Regions from separate parts of the Homo sapiens genome. Here region 2 is linked to region 1. The links come from fine-mapping of genetic effects on gene expression. A gene starts in region 1. The other region holds a variant in brackets. All regions are shown on one strand. Distances are from middle to middle.

Region 1 (9,200 bases):
AGGAGATCATGAAACCTGCGCCAAATGCCCCATTCCACCGCTAATAGCTTTGTGACCCTGTTTAAGTTGTATCTTCGCTCTGAGTCTTGGTTTCCCATGTGTAGATTGAGAAGAGGGGAAGGCTAAACTAGATCATCTTCAAAGTTTATTTTAGAATGGGCATTAGAAGTGTAGCCTGCTCCTTCATCCCGCTACACCACGCATACACTCTGGGGCCTCGAGGCAATTGCCTGCTTTCCAGAGAGCTGCCAAGAGAAGCACCAAAGCAGATGGGGCTGAGGGAAAATAAGATATTCTCAGCAAGATGGAGCTTCAGTTACCATCTCATGCTCCAGCCAAAGGGAGCTCTAAGCACAAACCTAATCTCTATCCCTCTGCCTTTAGGGTTGTTGAGGTGCCCAGAGATGAAGAAGGATAACTAGGAATCTCCTAGAACATGTCCAAAGGCAATCAGACCTCAGGCTTATATAATCATCTTCACAAAACCACGGAACACAGTGGAGCTGAGAAAAGGGGCTTGGACTCTCGTGATTGCCATCACCCTTTCCCCCATGCACCAGAAAAGCTCCTGTGATTGAAATATGCCATACAGCCCCAAATAAAGCAGGGAGGAAGGGTGGGCTCTTACCAATGTACTGGCCCGTCAGGCCTCAGTAGCTGGCCACGTTGACAAAGAGGACGTATTTGCCAGCATACTGCTTGAAGGGGATGTACTCCTCCCCATCAATGGTGAGGGCTCCGTACTCGTAAATGGTGCCACTTATGCCACCATGGCAGTCCATCTGGAACACAGGCCATAAAAGGAGCAGTTAGAGCTGGAAAGGAACTTGGACATCTCCGTTTTCAAAAGAATGAAAGATCCCAACAGAGAGAGTGACTTTCTCAAAGTAATCACCGAGAATTGGAACTGGACTAGCACTGACGTCTCCTAATTCCTTGTTTAAGATAATGATTATGAAAGCACTTAATAAGTGCTTTTCGGGTACTTAATATTAAGTGCTTAAAAAGCACTTATTAATATTAAGCACCTAATAAGCACTTATTAATATTAAGCACTTAATAAGTGAGTGCTATGGAACCCTGGAGAATGACTTATTTTGCTAATTACTTCCACATCACATGTCAATTTCAGAACATTTACTGGGCTCTCAGGGAGACTGCCCTAAAGCTGATGACTGGGTTCCTAGACGGGCTGATGGAGACTGGTTGGGTGGCTGTTGGAATAATCCAGGCAATTGAGGATGAGAACCTGAACTAGGCCAGTGTGAAGGAAAAACTGAACAGAAAGGAGGAAGAGGCCGTATGGACATGGTGATTCAGAGGCTCCCAATCTGCAGGACAGGAAAGATGAAGCTGTTGTTACCAAATAGGGAAGCAGGACTGAGAGCCAGGCATGGGGGAAAGGGCTGTGGTGAGGTAGGGAAAAGCAACAGTACCTGCATGTGTTAATGTTCCGGGTCTGAGCAGGCTGGTGATGACCCTTATGCCTTCCTCCCTCCCCAGCTGCTGCTCACAGTCAGCCTCCAGGACAAGGAGGGACAGAGTGCAGTGGACTGTGGGCTGGGAGACCTGGGCTCCATGTCCCTTTGCCATTAACTCCCTGTGTGGTCTTGGACTGGCCCTTTCTTTTCTTCGGACCTGAGTTTCCTCATTTATAAAATGAGAACCTTGAACTGAACCAACTCTCCAACCAGGTCAACCATGATGGCTTGATAGGATCATGATCAGTGGGAGAGAGGGGATTGGGGTCACTGCTGGCTAGTAGGATGTGGCCTATGAGCCTACTCTGCCCGTGACACAGACAACAAAATTCTGAGACTATTCTTGAAAGGATGTCATTGCATCATTGACACAATTTGGCAGGTGGGCTGGTCGTGATGGGAAAGGAGAAACCTTGAAACCATTGTATAAGGTGGTCTTTAAGGTCCTTTGTGGCCCTGATATCCTTTGAGAGGTGGGCAGACAATAAACAAATGGAATGCAAAGTAGCATTATAGACCAGGAGAGGGCAGAGACAGGTGGCTGGAGTTAGAGAAGCAAATTCACTCCCTCTCTTCCCCTCAATTCTGGAGAACTTGCTGTTGAGGCAAGGTACCTGGGCCTGACCAGGTGAAGGGAGTGATATATGCTGGCAGGGCGTGGCCCCAGTAGAGTGCAGAAGAGCTGCCTCTGTCATGAAGCAGGTCTGCTGAGCTGGGCGAGGCTGCGCTTCCTCCGCCAGGCCATTCCCTGGCAGCTGCAAGCTCTCTTCTTGGCTCTGGTGCAAACTTCCTGCTTTACATGAGTCTAATATTCCACATCCGGTGACTTTTGGTGGGTGCTGGAGGCAGGCCCAAGACCTAAGATCAACATTCCTACTGCTCCTGGACCTCCTCGTTCCCAGCCAGGGCCAGTTCCGCCTTAAAATGCAGACAAACTGGGGCACAACAAATACACCCTAGACCGCCACAAAGATCTAGTGGCCAGAAAGCCAGGCATGTCTATAGCCTCTCCACTTTTTTAACTCTGCCATGATCCAAAAATGAACTCTGAGACATGGAGGAAAAAAAGATTACAGGTTGTCCTAATAATGGGAACTTGTAAACAGAAGGACCAGCTTCTGGGCACAGTTTCAGCTTGGGGGTGTGGCAAGGAGAACCCTATTTCATTAGGTTCTATTTTTTGCTGGCTGTGTGGCCCTGAGCAAGTCACTTACACTGTCTGGGCATATGTCCAGGGAGATAAGCATGCTGCTGCCCAAAATGGTTGTGGGAATCTGCTGGCAGAGCAAAACAGGCCTGGAGTCTCTTGGAACGAAATCTCATGTCAAGGGATAGTGGGGGTCAGAAGGTGGCCCATGGGTGGAGAGCCACGGCTGTGCTCACCACTGATCACTGCAACTCAGTCCTCTATGAGCCCCCTTCCCTTCTCTGGGCACGTGGAATCCCAGAGCACCGCATCTGAAACAGTGGCCAGAGGAGATAAGGGGAGAGGCCATGAGGGTGCCTGAATCCTCCCACAGCCGGGCAAGAGAAGAGGGTTCCAATGGCTTGAGAGTTGGATGATGGGACTCAGCCAGGACTCTGGCTGGCTGGGGCTGCTGGTCTTGTGTCTTTCTCCTCTCCCGTCTTATTACTCCTATCAATATGATGCTGTGAGAAGTGGTCTGGGAGTCAGGAGACCTGAGTGCTGGGCTTTGCTGTGTCTCTGATGCCATGTGACCCCCTTTGCTGGGGCTCCAGCTCCTCCATTGTAAGATGGAGTCAGGTTCAGGGCTGTCTTAAGGGCCCTTTAACTCTGTCAGCCTGTGGTTCCATGATTCTCTCTGCCAGGTTTAGTCACCTAGAAACCAGCAGTTACTAGGATCCCGTGCACGTCAGCAGTTGTCACTCTTTCCGGCTTCTGCAGTCCTTTTGTAGAGACAAGGAGCGTGGGCAGCCTGAAGTTGGACTGGGGAGGTGACGCAGCAAGAAGAGGAGGACCTGGTCTCTTCCCTAGCATCTCCCTTTCAATTGGTAGGAGGAAAACACCTCTCTGGGGCTGAGTCACCTTTCGTCCATTCCATTCTCCACATGCCCCATAACCCTATCTCTTTACCCTGGGGTTGGGGGTAAGGTGAGTGGTTGGGTCCTAACCCAGAGCTAAGACATCTGAACTCTAAGAACTTGGGAGCAGAGATGGGCATGCCCAGGCTTTCATTAGCCAGCAAGTCCTGACTGGTTGTATGTGATATGATCACACCTCACCCTAAAACTTTTCTAGACCATCCCCATCCTATTCTCTCTGAGTCCATTTATCCTTCCCCAGAGTGCTGCAGAGAAGACACAGCTATGATGAGTTATTCATGGAGTCCACGTTCTCCCCACTAGCCTTCTTGAGGCAGGGCCCAATTGTATCTTCTTTGACCTTTCCAAAACTGAAGGTTGGGACTGACTCCACGGTGCTGGCCTGTCTATGGCCCACCCCAAACCTCAATGTTGAAAATCGATCCCATTCCTGACCTGGAAAATGCCTTCTGAGTTGGGGATTATGAACAGGGATGGATAAAAAGGAGGGGACTTGGACGAAGTGGCTTCACATCCATTTAGACTGACTCCAAGGAGAGGCTGATTAATCGGATTTAGGCTGAGGACCGAAAAGGGGTGAGTAACATGGAAGGAACCCTGTGCTTCCAATGGGCTTCCTGAGAAGTGGACAGAATTTTGGAAACGGAATCCTAGACTCATAAGAACTTAATTAAAGTGAAGACCCAGAGGATTTTAGAAACAAAAGCTCAGAGCTTGCAAAAATGTGAGTTATGCATGTTGGGAAGTTGGAGACAGAAATCGCTCGCTTTGAGTCTATCCCTACACCTGGCTTCTGCCTCCTTCCCCACCCACTCCCACTCCCTGGGTAGAGGAGAGGTCTACAGAGCCCACCCCAGTACATACTGTCAAAGGAGATAAGCATGCTGGGTCATCCCACTCCTGGCCTCAGTATCCCCACTCCAGGTGTGGGCCACACACCTGCTGGAAATAGACTGAGGCTCTAGAGAATTCTACCTCTTCTTCTGAATTAGCAGTCCCCAGCTTTCTCCAACTACCAGGTTTCCTCAGGCTAATGAGGACAGTGGGTCCTGGGTAGTGAGGCTGCCCCAGGGGAGGAAATTTCAGAGAACAGCTTGTGGATTTTTCAGCTTCTCCAAGCATCCCCTCTGAGGCCCTCAGCTTCATTGTGCCCCATGCACTCCCACCCCCAAACTCTCCCCTGCAGATGGAGAAACGGGGGTCCAGGAGCAGGTAAGGACTCAGGGTCCTGAGTGTTCTGCACTGTCACTCCAGAGCTCTTTCTAGCACAGATCTCTGCCTCTTCTACCAATGCCCTGAATCCAAGTGGCCATTTCTACCTGCCTGTATCATTCTTGGGGTAGAAGAGCCCCCCACAGCAGTTCTTCAGGACCAGGACCACCCAGCTGCCTCTCTCCTTTCTCCTTGTCTCTCTCCCTGGGAACTTGCACAGCCCACCCAGACGCTGGGCATTTTTTTCTGTGACGCCCTCCCTCTTAGGCCCTACTGAAGGGGAGCAGCTCAGGCACGGAGGTGACATAGATGTAGCAAGGCGACCCTCGAGGTGGCAGTGGGGAGAAAGTGCGAGCTCGGGGAGAGAGACCTTCCTCCCTTAGTCATTCTGCCCGCCTGAAGCACCAGGTCTCGGCTCTCCAACAGATGGAACTACGAGACGACGACGGTCGGGGGCGGGGTCCCGGCGGCGGAGGGGGCGGCAAAAGGGGTTCAGGAGGTCTCTCGCACCTGGGGATTGCCCATCTGGCGGGGAGCCTGGGAAAAGGGGTGCATTGCACTGAGCGCTGGACACCGAGGGGCTAGGTTTTTTCTCCCGGCCCCCGGCCCGGAGGCTCACTCACCTTCGACTTCTCTTGTCCCCGGCTCTGCGAGACGAAGCCGGCCAGGAGCAGGGAAAGCAGGCAGGACGCCTGCAGCAGCCGGGCCATGGCGGGGTGGGGGCACACTCAGGGTCGCCTGAGCCGCTGCCTGATCCCTGGCCACCGTCCGTCTGAGGTGTCCGGCGCTCCCAGCCACCTTTCAAGCCCTCGGGTGTGACCAATCCGCGGCCAAGCCGAGACCCTTGCAGCCAATCGCTAGGCGGCTGGGATTTCAGGGGCGGGCGCGACTTGCCCTCAGCTCCCCACCTCCCCGTCCCGGGGCGACAGTGACATAAGCAAATCTGGGCAGAGAGGTGGAAGTCAGGTCCCTGTGGACGTGGGAGGCGGTCCCTTCCTCTTTTGGCTCCAAAGTGCGAAAGGAGGCAGACACAGCGGTCTCCATTACAGCCAGGGCAAGGGGGCTAATAGCTCCCTAGAACTGATGGAAGTCTCCATTCTGGGAAGCATTTCTTATTCCTATCGAGGTTTTAAAAACACCTGGCGATGGTCCTCTGGAAATTGAGGGTTTAAAATTTCAGCAAGAGCTGAAGTTAAACTTCCAGAAACATTTACTATATATAGGTTTAGTGCTTAAGAAACAAAGAGTGGGTGTCCTGGGATTTTGAAAACCCCATTCTGGGTAGGGCATTAGGACTGTAGGGACAGAGAAGGTGGGGTGCCTTTCCTCCCCATCATAAGGATCACAGCTGACATGCCTGTAGAAAAAGGTTAGCAAGAGAAAAGCATAACGATTTATTTAATTAAAGTTTTCTGTGACATGAGAGTCTTCAGAAATGAAGACCCAAAGACTCAAGGAAAACTCTATTTTTAGGCTTAGATTCTATGAAGACCATGGAAATGCGCAGAAATGTGAGTGGGGAAAAAGGGAATGGTCTAATAGTAATAAACTGAGTGGGAAACCCAGCAAGGCTTGTCTGTTCGTATTCTTCTTGGCCTATCTGTGGCCAAACCACCTGGCTTAGAAGCAGAAAATAAATTTGCTCCCTGTGTAGTCTTTAACATGTTGCAGTTACTCTCTGGGCCTCAGTTTCCTCAGCTATGTAATGATGGGATTGATTAGTGATCTCCAGTGCCCTTCTGGCTCTGGCTAGATGACTTGTTTCTAAAGTAAGTGACAGACGGAGACCAGGAGTCCTTTGAGAATAGGGCCCATAATCACCACCTGGCACAGGGCCTAGCACACAAGAGATGTAAAGTATTTGCTGACTTAATCATTCATTACATTAAAAAAACAAAATCTCCATGGAACACTTAGGATCAGACCAGGCAGTTCTAGGGCTGGGCTGTCTAGGTATGATCCCGTTCACAGATGGGGAATGTGATGGAATCAGTCTCAAATCTCTCTGACCACCAGAGTCAACTGGGAAGCCTTTAATACAGATTCCTGGACCCCACTTTGGAATCACTGCATTAGAATCTCTAGGGGCAGAAGCTGAAAATCTGTCTTCAGACATGTTCTAAGGTTATTGTGAGGCAGTTGGCCTGGCTGTAGCCTTGGTAGTGTGAGTCCTAGGATTAAGTGCCTTCTGGAACTTTCTTCTGACCAAGAAATGCCTTGAGAAACCATACCTTTACTATGATTAAAGGTATTAACATCCCCCTGGGAATTTGGAAGATGTCTCTCAAGTTTTGCATTCTCTACGAAGTCTTCCCACCTCAAACCACAGCCTGTTGAAGTGGAAGGAACCACAGAGGCCAGGAAGTCTTTAGCTGAGTTAAAGCCTGGGAGCATATGAACAATGGCTGACACACAGTAAGTGCTCAATACGTTTTATTCAACCACCTCATTTCCCTGAAGCCTAGAGATGAGGAGCAATTTATCCAAGTTCCCATAACCAACTGATGGCAGGGAGGGAACCAGAATCCAGGTCTCTAGACTCAGTCTCAGGCCCTCTCCATGTTGTTCTGTTGTCTTTTAAGGTTCGTATTTACCCTAAAATATAAACATCTGTGTGCACATCAGTTTGTCAGAAATCCATTGTTCATTAGTATCAGTAGGCATCTAGTGACCCTCAAAATAGGCACCTAGCAACATGTTAACACCATGAGAGATGCTAAAGAGTTGTCTAAAAGCCAAAGTCCCTGCTCTCAAAGGTGTTTCCAGCAGATACCAGCAGGGTGAGGGAAGGGAAGGCACCTAGGGTCACACAAGTGCAGGCTGGCACCTGGCAGCGGGCATCTCTCTACATTTTGCACCCTCTATGTCTCACTTGTCTCACCTTAATCCCAGCCCTGGTGGTCTATTTCTTTAGGGGAGACAAGAAGGAGCCAGAGACCTGAGATGCTACCCCTGGATTGCTACGGAAAGTAATAAAATTACTTTCCTTCTCTGATCTCAGTTGTCCACCTATTTAACAAGGATCTTTGACAGTCTCTCAGTGGTGGTGTCTGTGGCTTTTCATTCCTAAGAGTATAAGGAAAGCCTGAGCCATACAAAACAGGAGTACAAAACTGATGACATGGACAGTGGGGTGGGGAGGCTTGGGGAGCCTGCCCTGGCATTAAGAAGGGCTTTCATGCTGCAGTGAGCTTTCAAAGGAGGTCTAACCATTGGCACAAAGAGCATGACAGTGAAAACAATGAGAATGAAAACAATACTTCCCAATCTTTTCATCAGCAGCCTTTTAAATACATTTGGTTGACTTGTTTTCAAGGACCCTATGTTTTGAAATATATCGTTCTCCACCAGGCTGCTTCTGATTGCCCTCAGGTTAAAGTCTAAATTCCTTAGCACTTCAGAAAGTGCCCTCAAAATCCATCTGCTTCTTCCTCTTTTGCCACACTCTCCATATTCTCTCTGCCTCCGCTACACTGGACATTTTTCCGTTCTTGCAGTCTGCCATTCTCCCTCACTTCCAGGTTTCATCTCTGCTGTTCCCTGTGCTTGGAACAGAGGTTGTCTCCCTTTAACTGGTACTATCCTACTCATTTTTCATATCTCCACTAATGTCACGTCTTAAGACAGGGGTTTCGTGATGGTTCCCTTGTTTTCCTGTAGTTCCTAGAGTATTTGACACTTTGTACATCGACCCTTTGTTGTACTTTATCATCATTTCTTGTTTGTCTATTTTCTGCACTAAATTATAAGATCCAAAAAGGCACCAGCACCAGCACAGAGCTTAATACATAGTAGTTGCTTGATACATATCTATCAAATAAATTAATGTCAAGGAAAACAATATTTGGCATATAGAATAAGGAGAGCTTCAAGTTAGCAAGTTGTAACCATGTAGAGCCCGCAAGACTGGTCTGATTTCATCTTCTAGGAAGATTCAAGACGTGCGGGTTATGATGAGTAGGCTTGTCAGAGGAGAGTAGATGATTTGCATTGGCCAAAATGGGAAGGGAGGGATGGAAGGAGAAGCTGTAGAAGAATCATAAGCTAGTTTTGCTTCCAGTCTGAGAACACGTCTTCCGCATTCCAGACAAGTGAGCACTCGGAACCTCTTCATCCTATTTTTTAGAGACCTCTATAGGGAGCTCACTACTTACCTACTTGGTAGGTGAACAGAGACCGAAGATGACTTAAAAAGAGGTTTTACAAAAAGTGCTGATGCACTGTGTCTTCAAGGAAGATAGAACACAAATTAATAAACTCAAAGGATTGTAAAAAGTTAAAACAACGAAAGCCAGCCTTATTATTGGTTAGTAAACATTTCAGGTTCTGAACTCAAAGATGGGATCAGCCACTCTAACTGATGAGCCTAGGTGGAAGCAGAAGTGAGGCCCAGCCTGCGTCACTTCAGTGCCAACTTCAAACAGTAGCCCTTGTTTTGCAATC
Region 2 (8,000 bases), 33 kb before region 1:
TTACAGGGCAACTTTGGGCAAGTTCCTCCTCCCCATAGCTTGGTTTCCCGGCCTGATCTCTGAGGCTCCCTGTAGCTCTGCTGTCCTGTGATTCCCATAACTGTTTCCGGGAGGCTGCTGGAGGAGCTGAGCCGTGGACAGGGTGGGAAGGATGAGCAGAACTTGCAGAGGCAGAGAGGACACAGAGAGGACACATGCAGAGACACCAGACCTGGTGTGTGTGGGTTCAGGCAGGGTAAAGTGGGGAGCCCAACTGGATGCTGCTGTGGATGGGACCTGCGGCTGTAGGGCCTTAGATGCCCAGCAGGGGAGCTGGGCCCAGTGCCGTCTGCAGTAGGGTAACACTGCAGGTCCTTGGGAGTGGAATTGGTGTAACAAAGGCAATGTCTTTGGTAGGAGTATTCCAGATAGACTAGAGAGAAAGAGTCAACTATCTGGCCCACGGTGTGCTTTATTTCTTACATACTGTACTAGTTTGGGACTTTCTGAAATAGCTAAAGCTGTGGTTCCTTAAACTGTTTTGAGTCTTGGGTCCTCAGAAGCTGATGAATGCTTGGGCCATTCCCCAGAAGACACATGTGTAGGCCAGGCATGGTGGCTTACGCCTGTAATCTCAGTACTTTGGGAGGCCGAGGTGGGTGGATCACCTGAGGTCAGGAGTTCAAGACCAGCCTGGCCATTGTGGTGAAACCCCGTCTCAACTAAAAATACAAAAATTAGCTTGGTGTAGTGGTGCACACCTGTAATCCCAGCTCCTCAGGAGCCTGAGGCAGGAGAATCGCTTGAACCCAGGAGGCGGAGGTTGCAGGACGTATATGCAGATGTCCCTTGGTAAACATGGGAGAGTGGTTCCAGAACTCCCTGAGGATACCCAAAATCCATGGATGCTCAAGTCCCTGATGTAAAATGGCGTAGTAGTTCCCTATAACCTATACACATCCTCCTATATACTTTAAATCATCTCTAGATTACTTACGATACCTAATACAATGTAAATGCTAAATTTTGGTATACTGTATTGTTTAGGGAATAATGACAAGAAAAAAATTCTGTACATGTTCAATACAGTTTTTTGTTTGTTTGTTTTGGGACGGAATCTTGCTCTGTTGCCCAGGCTGGAGTGCTGTGGTGCGATCTCTGCTCACTGCAACCTCCGACTCCCTGGTTCAAATAGTTCTCCTGCCTCAGCCTCCCAAGTAGCTGGGATTACAGGCACGTGCCACCATGCCCAGCTAATTTTTGTATTTTTAGTAGAGACAGGGTTTCACCACTCAGGCCGTCTTGATCTCCTGACCTTGTGATCTGCCCGCTCAGCCTCCCAAAGTGGTGGGATTACAGGCGTGAGCCATCGCGCCCGGCCAGTTTGTTTTTTTAGAAGATTTTTGATCTGCAGTTGGTTGAATCCATGGATGCGGAACCCATGGATATGGAGGGCTGACTGTGCAGTGATGTCCCTTTTCTGGGCTTGTTACTGTCAGGGGTCAATTCATCCTCCTAAGAACCCTGTGAGGTTGAAGGGAGGGAAGGGTTGTGCGGACATTTGGTAGATGAGGATGCTGAGGTCCAGCAGACAAGTGACTTACTGTCAGGCACTCTGCAAGGCCCAGTGTGTGGGAGGATGGTGGCCCCGCTGCTGTGGAGCCACCAGTGGCCTGTGAGTCCTGGGTTCTGCCCTGTGAGTCAGCCCCAGACAGGGAACCTGCATAACTGGAGAATTTCCCGGGGCTGAGCTGGGGTCACAGGGGGAAACTGAGTCATGAGAAATGAGGAAGCAGAGGGAGAATGGACTGGCGGCGCCTACTCAGGCCTTGGTGAAGAGTGGGCCGTGTGCCCTTTCCCTCTCCAGGCGCTGGGCCCCCTGCCCCGTGAGGACGGCAACCTGATGCTGCACCTGCAGCGCCTGGAGACCACGCTGAGTGTGTGTGCCGAGGAGCCGGACCACGGCCAGCTCTTCACCCACCTGGGCCGCATGGCCCTGGAGTTCAACCGACTGGCATCCAAGGTGCACAAGAATGAGCAGCGCACCTCCATTCTGCAGGTGAGGCGCGTGGGGAGGGCAGCCCGAGACAGGCAGGCGTGCTTCCCCCCGAGCTCTTCCCACCTTCCTGCTCCTGGGAATCCACTGGTACCATGGGGACTTCTGAAGGCTGTGTTGTGGGCAGACTTCGGGCTTTTTGTTCAGGGTGATGAACAGGATAAGGAAGTTGTGGGGAGGGATGAGGAAGAGGAAGGAAATGGGGAAATACGGGATGGGCAATGCGAGTGTCATGGTTGGGGATACCCCCAGCAGCCCTGCCTTTATTTCTCATGTGCAGGGTTGGGGGATGGGAAGGGAGGGAACAAAGGTCAACTCCTTTCATAATGCCTCTTTCCCCCCAGGGTAGGCACCCTCATTATCACCACTTCACAGGTGGGGAAGCAGCCCTTTTTTTGCCCAAGGTCACCCAGCTGGTAAATGGTGAAGTAGGGATTGGAACCTCGATCTCTCGCATTCCAAAGCCCATACTCTTGACCACCATCCCAACCTGCCTCCCCTATTGAATTCCTTTTGAAAGCCTCCCTGTGCTGTGGGGAATGGACAGATTTCCTTGCTAGGCCAGGCCAGACCTTGGAGTTATATGGTCCTTGGTTCCAGTAGTGACCCTTTATTGCTGTATGACCTTGGACAAGTCACTTATCCTCTCTATCCCCCAATGTTCCTATCAGTAACATGAGCTAGAAGTGCCTCCATGGTTAGATTGCTGCATTAAATGAGGCCATGTACATGAAGCACCCAGTGCAGTCCAGAACCTAGTCCATGCTGGAAGAGAGGTCCCCATTCGGAGTTCATGACGGGCATCCACACTGGGCAGGGGGTCTTAGCCTTGTGGGCTTTAGCAGCGGGGAAGTGTTCAGTTATAATTGGTGACCATTCTAAAGATGGCAAAACGGAGGCTTCTGAGGGACTGCTCGTGATCTGAGTGCCCGCCACCTTAGTGACAGAGCCATGACTTGAAGCCTCCTTACTCCCTGCAGACTCTCCTCCCAGGCCATTCTCTGATCTGTGGTCTCATTCATGTCAGCAGGCACTCAAGTGCCCCGCTGATGGCAGAAGGGGGAGTCCCCCTTGCGTGACCTTGGTTGCCGAGGGCATGAAGGGCAATCAGGTTGGAGATGCAGTATGAGGAGAGGTGTGGGGGTAGAGGAGCACGGAGGATGCCCATCCCACCTGGAGGGGAGGGGTGTGTTGGGAGGTGAGGCTGAACGAGAGGCAGAGGCCTGGAGAGCCAGGCTGAGAGAAGGGAACCCCTTTAAGATGTCAGTGAGGCTTCAAGGTATCCAGGCTGAACCCTGGCAAGGTGAGCCTGGCACAGTGCCTAGGCTGTGGGCAGGGTAGGAAGGTGCCTGGGGTGAGAGCACTTTGCGCATCCACTTTTCAGCTTTGAGATGGGGATAGATCCTAGGCCCCTTAAAAGGGGTCCTGCCAACCTCTGTTATTTTTTATTTCAGTCCCCTCCTTGTTTATTTCCTTCTTAGCTCTTATCATAGTTTGTAATAATTTTATTTAATACATTTTTTCTTATACTCTTTTTTTTCTTATACTCTCTGCTAGAAGGTAAGCTTGAGGGGGGCAGGCACCATGTCTGTTGTATTCACTGTTGCGTCCCAGTTCGTGGCACTTCATACACACTTGGTGAATGAATGAAAGGACAAAATAATAAATGATCAAATGAACTCATAGCTCTCGTAGCACCTTGGATGGAAGGTGATGATCTTTGTGACCTCTGATGATTCTATCCATTGGCCGGTTTGCACCCAGGGCATTGGCCCAGAGACTCCAAGGAAACAGCTCTCTAGACTGCAAGGGTAGGACAGCAAGTGAGGCCTTGTCCTGGCCTTCCCTTAGGGACTAGGAGCAGGCCATTCTGTTCCCTGGAGGCCTCGCCCAGAGACATGGCATCTTGGGTATTTTTACTGCCTGGGTGGAGGTGTATTGATCCAGTTCCTCCTCATTCATTCACTGATGTGTTTCTTGGTTCACTAAACAAACATATTCAAGGTCAGGTATAGCATAAGGCTCTCTGCTAGGCATTGAATGGACTCATAACAATAATTTTTTGATTTCTTTTTTTTAAGGGGTGTTGGGGGACAGGGTCTTGCTCCGCCACCCAGGCTGGAGTGCAGTGGTGCGACCACAGCTCACTACAGCCTTGACCTCCTGGGCTCAGTTCTCCCACCTCAGTTCCCTGAATAGCTGAGACTACATGCATGCGCCCTTATGCCTGGCCAATTTTTTGGTATTTTTAGTAGAGACAGGGTTTTGCCATGTTGCCCAGACTGGTGTTGAACTCCTGGGCTCAAGTGATCCTCCTGCCTCAGCCTCCCAAAGTGCTGGGATTACTGGTGTGAGCCACCATGCCCAGCTGGTTCTCTGTTTGCTAAGCCTCATCTCCCTCATTGTCCAGCCACCTCCAGTTGAAGGCTGTGTCCTCCATTCAGCCTTCCCAAGAGTCTCCTTTGTGAGTCAGAAATGAAACAACTCTGAAATCTCCCTGGGTTACACAACAAAAGTTTTCCCTCCTATTCTGTGTGGCAGGGGTTTGTTTCTGCTCTACACAGTTCCTTAGAGTCCCAGGGAGACAGGGGCCCAACTTTCCGGTGCCCTTTAGAATACGAGGCATCCACATCAGCCCCTGCTACCAGGAAAAAGAGACTGGAGAATTGTGCGTAGGCCAGTCCAGGAGTGATGCTTGTCCCTTCTACACCTCTTTTGTTGGCCAGAACTAGTCACATGGTTGCATCCACCTGCAACAGGCCTGGGAGGTGGAAGGCAGCAGATGGCTGTTTAGTGAATGGCCCTGGTCCTGGCCCAGCTCAAAGGCTGTCCCCTCCTTTGGGCACCATCTCTCTCCCTTCTCTGATCTTTCATCACAGGGG[A/G]AAGAGACACCAGTGTGGGGTCTGCCAATTGGAGTTTTACTCCCCGCCAGTGATGAGTCTTAGCAGCTGTGCACCTGTTAGACTGTATCATTTTACCTGGTTTCCCTACCTTTAACATAGAGATGAGTTACTTAGCTTTGAGGAAGTTGTGAGGCACCAGTGAGGCAGTATATGGAGAAACACCGAGCAATGTACCTGGCACAGGTGAGGTGCTCAGTGAGGATCTGTGGAAAGATTGAACAACTCTGTGCTGACACTGTATGCTAGCATTGCTAGTCAGCACCTTCCCTTCCCCCCAGCCTGTGAGGTCCTGAGTCTGGCGACCCCTCTTCCATGCCCCCAGTTCACAGAGCTTCCAATATGAGTCCCCGCACATAAGCAAGTGACTGATGGTTCATGGACACTTCCACTCTCACTGTCTCATCTGTCCCTCTCAGCAGCCCTATAGAGGAGGCAGAGAAGAAACAGTTGTCCCTGGGCTAGGTGTGGTGGCTCATGCCTGTAATCCCAGCACTTTGGGAGACTGAGGCAGGTGGATCACTTGAGGTCAGGAGTTTGATACCAGCCTGGCCAACATGGTGAAACCCCGTCTGTACTGAAAATACAAAAATTAGCCAGGCATGGTGGCACACACCTGTAGTTCCAGCTACTCAGGAGGCTGAGGCAGGAGAATCTCTTGAACCTGGGAGGTGGAGGTTGCAGTGAGCTGAGATCATGCTACTGCAGTCCAGCCTGGGCAACAGAGTGAGACTCTGTCTTAAAAAAAAAAAAAAAAAAAAAAAAAAGAGAAACAGTTGTCTTTCTTTTGTAGAGGAGGAACCAAGTGTCACAGCCACATTGTGAGGGCGTGAGGGCATAGTGAGGTCCCGACTGAATGCCTTGTCTTCTGGTTTTCCCCTTGGCAACACTGGGCACCTCTCACACCTGCAAATTGGTGTGCCTTTCAGCCCCCCTAGGACTCGCCTGCTCATTTGTCCATTTGCTCATTTGGCTGTTCAGTCATGTTGTTCCTTCCACAAACTTTGAGCTGGGGGCTGGGGATCTGGCAGTGAACAAGAGGATGGTTAGGGGTCCCAGCCCTCCGGGAGCTCAGGAATTAATTAGGGGTAAGGGGGTAGATATTAAGAAAACAGCAGCACGAACAGTTCTTTAGCTTTATCTGCCACAGGTGCTGAGAAGCGTAAAAGCGGGGGGCTGTGAGCAAGGATAACGGAGTTAGCCTAATGTAGCTGGATCGGGGAGTCAGGGAGGACTTCTCTGAGGAGATGGGATTTAAACTAAGACTTCAAAGAAGGGTAGAAGTCAGCTGGGGGAGGCTGGTGGGGAATAGGGGTCCCGGCAGTGGGAGCAGGGATGAAGGAGAAGGGATGGAGCTGTCTGTCTTGGAGGAGCAGAAGGCCCCATGGCTGATACTTGGTCAGGCTTCTCCGTAGTTGGCTCCCAAGGGAGAGGACACGTGGGTGGCCAAGTGGCTTAGCTCCTTAGAGAGGGATGGGGTGAGGCCAGGCAAAGGGGATAAGGAGTTGGGCCCTGGGGTGGCTACAGGCCCCCCACCATCCTCTAGCTCAGCCTGCACCTGGGAGGGGCCCCTCCTTTCCCTCACCCTGTCTGTTCCCCTGCCCCACAGACCCTGTGTGAGCAGCTTCGGAAGGAGAACGAGGCTCTGAAGGCCAAGTTGGATAAGGGCCTGGAACAGCGGGATCAGGCTGCCGAGAGGCTGCGGTAAGTTCAGGCCCCTCAGAGAAGGGGTGAGGAGTGGGGGCTGCAGGAGGAGGGGCTGGTGTGCAGCACTGATTTCTGGGTTGAGGACCGTGGCTCTGAGGCCCTGTGCCCAGAGCCCTATTTGGAGGTTACGTCTCTTGATCCTTCTCCTTGGCTCTTTTGGTATTTTCTCTCTGGCCCTTTTGCCACCTTGGGAGGTGTATAGAGTGCCTTGAGAGCTTCAGAAGAAGGTCAGCATAGATTGTACTTCCTTCCTCCTCCAGCACTTGCCTCTCTCCCCTGTTAACGGTGAACTGGCTGTCCAGAGGACTCAGGACTTTGCTGCCTCCTGCTGGTCACCATCCCAACCTGCTCTGTCTTCCTGAGAACATGAGAGCTCCCCCACTGGACTAGGGGGCTTAGACTTAACTGAGGGTTGAGGGTCAGGGAAAGGCATTACAAGTTTATACGCCTTCCCTTCCTTCCTTTGCAAGATTCTGAATTGACAGGTCTTAGGCAAGACCTAGGAGCCTGCATTTCACCAGGAGTCTCTGTGATTATGAACGAGGTAGGCACAGGATCACGCCTTGGGAAACACTGATCTTGACTGTCAGAGCTTGACAAGCCCTTGGAGATCATGCAGACAGACCTCTCACTGTGCAGAGGGGAAACTGAGGCCCAGGGAGAGGCAGGGACTTGATTGGAGTCTTACAACAGGAACTTGGGCCTCCTTGCTCTCCATCCTGTGAGTGGCCACAATTCCTGCCTGCACTGTGGTCCTGGACAGTTTGGGTGATGAGTCATCTGGTGGGTACCAGCTGGGCTCAGGCACATAGGAAAGGCCCGTGTCACAGACAGGACTTGCCACTCTGTTTTTCCCTCCTCTCCTGTTTCTTATTAGAATCAACAGAAAGAGAAGGAATATAAACTTTGTAAGTATGGCCACAGAAGTAATGTTTAACTACTGAGCCACTGGCTATTTTGAATCAGTGTGTAATTTATTTGCTTTTGGATGGCCAAGGATGCACTTTTGGGGTTTTTATAGCCCTAGTGACCCCATCCATGGATTCAGAAACTGAAGCTGGGGAAAAAAGTCACGGATTAGAAGGCAAGAATGCAAGTCTCTGCTGTATGACCTTGGGAAAGTCATTTTACTTATTGGTTTTTCAAGCGGAAACTCAGCTGGCAAATAGAACATAAAGAAGTGGTGGTTGGGCGTTGTGGCTCACACCTGTAATCCCAGCACTTTGGGACGTTAAGGCGGGAGGATTGCTTTGAGTCCATGAGTTTGAGACCAGCCTGGTGAAATACATCACCACCCCTCCCCCAGCCCCAACAAAAAATACCAAAAAAATTAGCTGGGTGTGGTGGTGTGCCTGTAG

The links. PIP is the estimated chance that this variant, and not a neighbour inherited with it, causes the effect.
Region 2: its variant is fine-mapped to the expression of GPX3 in whole blood (INTERVAL, PIP 0.92).

Annotation. Positions count from the first base shown.
Region 1 is chr5:151,016,922-151,026,121 of GRCh38, reverse strand. It overlaps GPX3 (glutathione peroxidase 3), which reads right to left and starts at 5,531. Exons shown (of 5, transcript NM_002084.5): 1 at 5,381-5,531; 2 at 629-782. The coding sequence starts at 5,467. RefSeq lists an enhancer at 2,887-4,086.
Region 2 is chr5:151,050,804-151,058,803 of GRCh38, reverse strand. It overlaps TNIP1 (TNFAIP3 interacting protein 1), which reads left to right. Exons shown (of 18, transcript NM_006058.5): 6 at 1,847-2,038; 7 at 6,545-6,639. Among named protein-coding and RNA genes, the nearest start is that of TNIP1, 26 kb to the left of the region's middle. RefSeq lists an enhancer at 1,973-2,499. The variant A/G (reference allele first, on the strand shown) is at 4,918.